Homo sapiens: one gene and its partner. Changing the gene in region 1 together with any one later gene gives a genetic interaction. Each region holds a gene or a part of one and is shown on either strand. Other genes may lie near its edges.

Evidence for each region.
Region 2: changes in LTC4S (region 1) and CAMK2G together harm fitness more than expected from each alone (negative genetic interaction), as found in Homo sapiens cells (one large-scale study listed by BioGRID).

The regions. Positions count from the first base shown.
Region 1 is NC_000005.10:179,792,482-179,796,226, forward strand, and holds the start of LTC4S (leukotriene C4 synthase), read left to right. Parts: upstream 1-1,504; 5' UTR 1,505-1,599; coding exon 1,600-1,657; intron 1,658-3,102; coding exon 3,103-3,202; intron 3,203-3,304; coding exon 3,305-3,375; intron 3,376-3,459; coding exon 3,460-3,541; intron 3,542-3,745.
Region 2 is NC_000010.11:73,847,056-73,850,700, reverse strand, and holds part of CAMK2G (calcium/calmodulin-dependent protein kinase type II subunit gamma), read left to right. Parts: intron 1-1,367; coding exon 1,368-1,440; intron 1,441-1,585; coding exon 1,586-1,688; intron 1,689-2,091; coding exon 2,092-2,175; intron 2,176-2,618; coding exon 2,619-2,713; intron 2,714-2,909; exon of another isoform or gene 2,910-3,353; coding exon 3,354-3,476; intron 3,477-3,645.

The sequences.
Region 1 (3,745 bases):
GGCAGAGTCTGAGGACGCGGCCACCATCGCTCCCTGGCACTACATCTGTGTCCGGGATCTAGGAGGCAGTCCTCCATCACTGAGCCCCAAGATGACTGTCACAGCTTGGTCTAAAGCAGGGGCCGGGCCTGAGCCCTGGCCCCTGCCCTGGAGGAGCTCACAGAGCCCCCAGCTGGGGCATATCTGGTTTCCGGGGGCAGGGGCGATACCCAGAGGAGGAAGAAGGGATTCTGAGAGAGCCCAACAGGCTCCGAGCCTCAGGCTGGAGCTGAGCTTGGGGCAGCAAGGAAGGACCAGGTGCGAGGGCAGAACCATGCGGCCCGACCCCTGCAGCACGGCCTGTGGCCTCCCCCAGCTCCTGCCCGTGCTTCTGGGTCAGTCTGGACTTTGCCACTTCTGACCAAAAGCCACCGCAAACCCACTCAAGCCAAAAGAGGAAGTGACCGTTAGGCCCAACTGGGAAGGCTGGCGGCCAGGGGCACTCCAGGCAGGGCGAGGGGGGCGGCCGGGGGCGCTCCAGGCGGGGCGAGGGAGACACCCAGAACTCCAGGCAGGAGTCCTCGGGTGCCACCTTTCCTCTCCACCTGGCCCTGCGTGGGCTCTGTCCTCAGGGTGGCCCGCCGTAGTCCCCCTCCCCACTCTGAGTTTCCTGTCCCAAAGTCCTAAGGAAGTTTCCAGAACTACATCTCACCATCTTGAGTCAGCCTTGGCTCAGTGTCCATCTCACAGGCCTGGAAGGGGCAGGAGTCAGCACTGTCCAGACCACAGGGCCTGAGTGTGGGGAGGGCAGCCGTCTAGGAAGGTGGTGGAGGGTTGTTACCTTGAGGCAAGAGGGCTGCGGGGCAGAAAGACACAGCAGGTGACTGTTGTGGGAGGCCCAAGAGAGGCCTGGGAGAGGGATGGCCCACAAGGGCTGACCCTCCCGCCACCCAGGGGGCCTTGGACAGGTTTCCTCCTGGCAGGGTGGCCCTTGTGCATGGAACCCCTACAACGACTAAGGCTGGCAGGCATGAGGTTTCCTGAAGGAGAAAGAGCTTGTGGGGCCCAGTGTGGCTGGGGGGGCGCTGGGACTCCATTCTGAAGCCAAAGGCACTGGGAAGGGCTTCCGCAGAGGAGGGTTTGGCAGGGGTTGCCAGGAACAGCCTGGATGGGGACAGGGAACAGATAAGGTGGGTGGAGGAGTTAGCCGGGAGCCTGGGGCTGGCTCCAGCATGATGTGGGGGTCTGCAAGGCCCTGGAGAAAGTGGGGTGGTGCAGCAGGGGGCACACCCACAGCTGGAGCTGACCCAGATGGACAGCTTGGGCTCTGCCACGCGGGACTAGGCAAGGAAGGGGCACGAACAAGCAGGAAGTGGTGAGGCGGTCTCCAGCTAGCTGCTCTCCCCTGCCCAGACTTTGGTTTCCTCCCTGCTGGCTTGGCCTGGCTCCCTGGCTCTGTGTGGTATGGTCACACCCCCGTGCACCCCCTCCACTGAGATGGGGCGGGGAGAGCACCGAGGCTGCTCTTCCTCTCCTGGGCCGTCCTCTGAGCAGCAGACGGGGCTAAGCGTTCCCCAGCTCGCCTTCACACACAGCCCGTGCCACCACACCGACGGTACCATGAAGGACGAGGTAGCTCTACTGGCTGCTGTCACCCTCCTGGGAGTCCTGCTGCAAGGTGGGCTGGTTCCTATCTAGGAAGAGGGTGGGCCTTAGATCCCTACAGCTTGCCCTCTGCCCCCTAGGCCCAGGTGGAGGGCAGAGGTGGGGACTCCAGCCCAGGCCCAAGCTGGAAGAGGGTGGGGACTTTCAGGGAACTGGGGGGCACCTGGCTGTGAGAGCTGTAGGACTTGGGGGTGGCAAGGGTGCCAGGACAAATGGTAGGATAGCCATGGGCTTGGGGAAGCTGATCTCTGCTCTTTCCAGCTGTCCCCTCTCTGGGCGTCCCAGCAAGCGGCCCCCATTCCCTGGCTCTGCTTCAAAGGCACCTCCATACTGGGACCACGTGGAGCAGGGTAGAGGTGGGACTCCTTCCTCCAGCCCCCTAAAAAGAGCCTGCTTAATGCCTTTCTCAGACTGGCCCTAAAGGACACATTCCTTGGCCAGATATCCTTGCCACCTAAGAGACACCACTACTCCACAGTGTGTGGGCTAGGATAAGGCACAGCCTGGGGAGGGGGCTCTGAAGGGGCTGAACAGACAGGCCAGCCTGACCTCCAGCTGCTCCTGCACTGAGCTGGATGGCCACCCTGTGACACCCATCTGCAGAGGGCCCAGAACCAAAGGTGCCAGGGCTGCAGGACTCAGGGGGAGATGGTCCGACGGGAGGTCTGGGGAGGGAGCGCACAGCCAGCACTGGTCTGTGTGTGGTCTGGCCTGGCCTCACCTGACCAAGAGAAGGGCTCCTGCCCACAGAGAAACTTTAGGGCCAGCCCACCCTCTGCAACTACCCCAGCCCTGGGGTCCTGGGGTTAGGCTAGGAGAGTCCCAGCTGCAACCTCCTGGGAGCAGGAGAGAAGGTGTCTGTCAGATTTAGGCCTGGGACCGGAATGCAGGAACAGAGAAACTGAGGTTTGGAGGCACAGGGACGCAGGCTTTAGTGATCCCGGCCTGAGGCAGGGTCAGAGGGCCCTGCTGGTGGGCGCTGGTAGGTGGGTGACCAGGGACTGTTAGCTACAGGGAGTGTGCTTCCTTGCACCTGGGAGGATGCAGCCAGCTCTGCCCTCAGACTCCCGAGGCACTTCCTGGCCAGGGACCTGAAAGCTGCATTTGCCTGTGTTTTGAGAGTGAAATGATTCAGAAACAAGGACTCAAGTGGTCTCTCTCGCGGAGCAGGTGTCCCTGTGCCTGAATCACTCACCCTCCCCCATACACTCACAGGTTGGGACAGGGCCTCTCTGCGCCCCAGGCTTCAGCCCTGCCCTCCTCGCTGAATGTCAGGGACACAGGGCAGGCCAGGGATGGGTGAGACGAGAGGTCTCCTCGGGCGGGGAGGGGGCGGGGTTCCGCCTTAGGGAGGAGAGGACACGGCCAAGTGAAGGGCCAGATTGCAGGATCCCTCCCACTCCCATCTCTGGGGCTTCGGGTGTCCAGACCTGACTCCCGCTCCCCCTCCTCCCCCAGCCTACTTCTCCCTGCAGGTGATCTCGGCGCGCAGGGCCTTCCGCGTGTCGCCGCCGCTCACCACCGGCCCACCCGAGTTCGAGCGCGTCTACCGAGCCCAGTGAGGCGCGGCGGGAGGGCGCGGGGCGGGGAGCGAGCCCCAGGCGGGTCCGGGTCGCAGGACCATCCCGGCCGGCGCGCTCATCCCACCCGCCCACCGCAGGGTGAACTGCAGCGAGTACTTCCCGCTGTTCCTCGCCACGCTCTGGGTCGCCGGCATCTTCTTTCATGAAGGTCGGGGTGTGGGGCAGGGGCGCACGCGCTGGACCCCCGGGACCCGCGCAGGGCGCTCACCAGGCCCGTGCGTACCTCTCGCAGGGGCGGCGGCCCTGTGCGGCCTGGTCTACCTGTTCGCGCGCCTCCGCTACTTCCAGGGCTACGCGCGCTCCGCGCAGCTCAGGTGAGGGCCGGGCGGGGAGCGGGGCGGGGCCGGGGAAAGATCGCGGGCGGGCGGGGCTCCTGGGGAGCGGGACCGAAGCTGGGGGCGGGCGACGGGCCGGAGCCCAGCGCCTTTGGGGATTCGGTGGGCGAGCCCTGGCGGCGGCCAGAGGAAGTCCCCGTGGGGCCAGGGTTGCGGCGGGGAAGAAGCGGGCCTCCTCGCGCC
Region 2 (3,645 bases), on another chromosome or scaffold:
CCAGCCCCATACACTGGGATGCTCTGCAGATGTGCTTAATATACCAGATAGTGCCTGATGACGGGGGTCTATATTCTAGGCCAAGTTCCTCAGCCTTGGTGCTACTAACGTTTTAGGCCAGGTACTTCCTTGTTGTGAGGCCTCTCCTGTGCATTGTGGCAGACATTTAGAAGCATCCTTGGCCTCTGCCCACCAAATGCTGGGAGCACCCCTCCTCCAGTTGTGACAACCAGAAATTTCTCTAGGCATTGCCAAATGTCCCCTGCGGTGGGGGGGGGCGGGCGGCAAATTCATTCCCAGTTGAAAACCACTGCTCTAGACTGCCCCCGCTCCCTGTCAGGAGTTTGATGACAGGGATGGCAGGATGGTTTGCTATGTGGACAGTCTGATTTACGTGTGTGACTGTGGCTGGGCGCAGTGGCTCACGCCTGTAATCCCAACACTGAGAGGCCAAGGTGGGTGGATCACTTGAGCTCAGGAGTTCAAGACCAGCCTGGGCAACATGGTGAGACCTTGTCTCCACAAAAAAATACAAAAATTAGCTGGGCACGGTGGCTCATGCTTGTGGTCCCAGCTACTGGGGAGGCTGAAGTGGGAGGATTGCTTGAGCCCAGGAGGTCAAGGCTGCGGTGAGCTGTGTTCACGACATTGCACTCTAACCCAGGCAACAGAGTGAGACCCTGTCTCAAAAATAAAATAATAAAATAACTTTGGGTTTTTTTCTCTACGCAAAATCATCAGAAGTGCTCCTTAAATGCCCTGTTTGGAAGCTCTTAAGTACATTGTTTCTTAAAGGTATCTTTGTACTTGTTTTAGCTGCCTTACTGGATGCCAGACCTCAGGGCAGCTATTGGGTCTTGTCCATCTTCATTATCCTAGGCACTCAATAAACATTTAGGGAAATGAATGAGTGCACCCACCGCCAAAGTAGCTTAGGTTGTTTAGTTGGACTCTCCTTCCTAAGTTGCCAGCACAAGCTTCTTCTCCAAGAACAAAGTTACTGTATGGAGAAAGAGAAAGAAGGAAGGGATTGGATGCTCTCTTCTTCCTCAGGATTCTGGGCTGTCTCCTGATCTCTTGGAAATGAGTTGGTTGTGTTAGACCTTTCCAGTCAAAAGGGGGTGAGAGGAACCCGTTCTAGCGGTGATCCTAGAAAAACCATTGCATCTGCCTGGGCCTCGGTTTCCTCTTTCTTTAAATAGGTTGAACAAGATGATGTGCAGAGTCTAAGGTTCCAGTGGCCGTTAAGTGATTCTCTGTGAATCCGTGGCCCCTTGTCACATGCCTTAGTCTGCAGCATGTGGTTGTGGATGTGGATGAGGTGGTTTAACCCTGCGCTAACATTTCTTTTCCTTCTGCTTTTTTAGCCACTGTATACATCAGATTCTGGAGAGTGTTAACCACATCCACCAGCATGACATCGTCCACAGGGACCTGAAGGTACTACCCAGGCTCCCCTCCGTGCCTCTGCTCATGAAGTGTTGGCGCCACCTGGTGCCAGATAGTGGTACTGCGTAGGCCCAAACTAGGCTTCCTCTGGGCTGCAGGGTGGGTGCTCACAAGGTTCTCTGTGTTTCTTCTGCAGCCTGAGAACCTGCTGCTGGCGAGTAAATGCAAGGGTGCCGCCGTCAAGCTGGCTGATTTTGGCCTAGCCATCGAAGTACAGGGAGAGCAGCAGGCTTGGTTTGGTAAGGGTGATCCTGTCTTCCCGGAATGCAGCCCCCGCCCTTCCTCCTCTTCCTGATCTGCCTTCCTCTATTAGAACTAGAAGCCAGACCCTTAATGGTCCTGGCCTCCGAGATCTCTCTTGGCCGTACGCGACTCAGTACAGTAAGTCTAGCTGTTGTCAGCACTGCTTTCTTGCTGCCTGTGGGAAGGAGCTGGAGTTCCTGGTAGGCATACGGCTTTGCCGTCTGGTTCAGATTCCAGGCGCTACAAGAAGCCCAGCCTGTCAGCTCTTGCTGCCCATGTGCTGAGAGTTTATGTAGCAAAAGCAGCAGGAATAAGATGGGACTTGGGGGAAATGGCTGGTGTGGATTTAACGAGAGAGAAAGTGGGTTCAGTATGCCTCTGCCCTCTCTTTTGCTACAGGTTTTGCTGGCACCCCAGGTTACTTGTCCCCTGAGGTCTTGAGGAAAGATCCCTATGGAAAACCTGTGGATATCTGGGCCTGCGGTAAGCCCATTCCACGCTCTCAGCTTTTCGCTGTTAAGGGCCCTCAACTTCCGATGATGGCAAGAAAGAGGCATCGCTATTCCTTGCAGGTCACACACGTGCCTGGTGTATGTGAAATTATGGTGTTTGCCCCTGGGATGGCTGTTCCCATCACACCCTCCTCCCTGCGTACTTCTGGGATGACATTGTATCCTTCTTGGAGAGGGATTTGCCCACGCCTTAGAGGATGGGTTGTGCCTAAAGAAATCCCTGGTGTGACTTGGTGACGTGAAGTGTGAGGCATAGCAGGAGGGGCTGGTAGCATAGCATTATCGGCTGGCATCCACTTCTGACTCTGGTATGGCCCCTGCCTTTCTAGGTGGCTCTGAGCCCTGCATGGTTTTTCTTGGTTCCTCAGGGAAGTAGGCGACTGACCCCCATGACCTGTGTGTTCTGTCTCGTAGGGGTCATCCTGTATATCCTCCTGGTGGGCTATCCTCCCTTCTGGGATGAGGATCAGCACAAGCTGTATCAGCAGATCAAGGCTGGAGCCTATGATGTAAGGACCAGAGAGCCGGGCAGCCAGGCCAGGAAGGGCAGATGTCCTTGCTCCTCGGGCTCTGTCCAAGGGAGCAGGCTTGTTTAGTGTGTCACGTGATACGGGGGTGTCAGGGGACTTTGAGGACCCAGGAATGGGCATCCAGGGCCCAATTCTTGCCACTCTATGTCCCAGGGAGCAACTTTCTTTTGCACAGCCTTCTTCATAACTAAAATTGAGGAGTCCACTGAAGTCCTTTGATCTTTACTTGCAAAGAATGGAGCGGCCTCATTGGTGTGCTGTGTAACACAGGGACAAAAGGCCTGGAGACTCCCTCCACTGCAGTGGCACCTTGGACACATTGCTGAGCCTCTGTTCCCTCCTAAGTATAGAGCTGGGCTTAAACCAGAGAATGTTGGAGTCCCCTTCCCGCTCTAATCTGATGTTCTGGCATTCTAAACATGACTGTTCTGTCTGTCTTTCCAAGTCTTTAAGTTGACACAGGTTCTGGAATAGCCGCAGGGCTTCTCCAACTCTGCCAGTCACAGCTTTAGGTACCACAGAGTATCCCAATTACAGGAGTTGAGTTGAAGACAGAACCAGTGTTGCAGGGTATGAAGCTCACCAATACCACATTCTTCTCCCTATTCCTGCTCCTTAGTTCCCATCACCAGAATGGGACACGGTAACTCCTGAAGCCAAGAACTTGATCAACCAGATGCTGACCATAAACCCAGCAAAGCGCATCACGGCTGACCAGGCTCTCAAGCACCCGTGGGTCTGTGTAAGTGTCTTTGCTAGTGGCCAAGGAGCTCAGGGGTGTCAGCCTTCTGTGTGCCCTCGGCACCACCCCCTCCTTCTTACCAGCAGAGATTCATTCTGGGCCCCAAGCAATAACTGAGCAGGCGGGCAGAGGACTGTTGAGGGCCAGGGTCAATAAATGTCACCAGGGA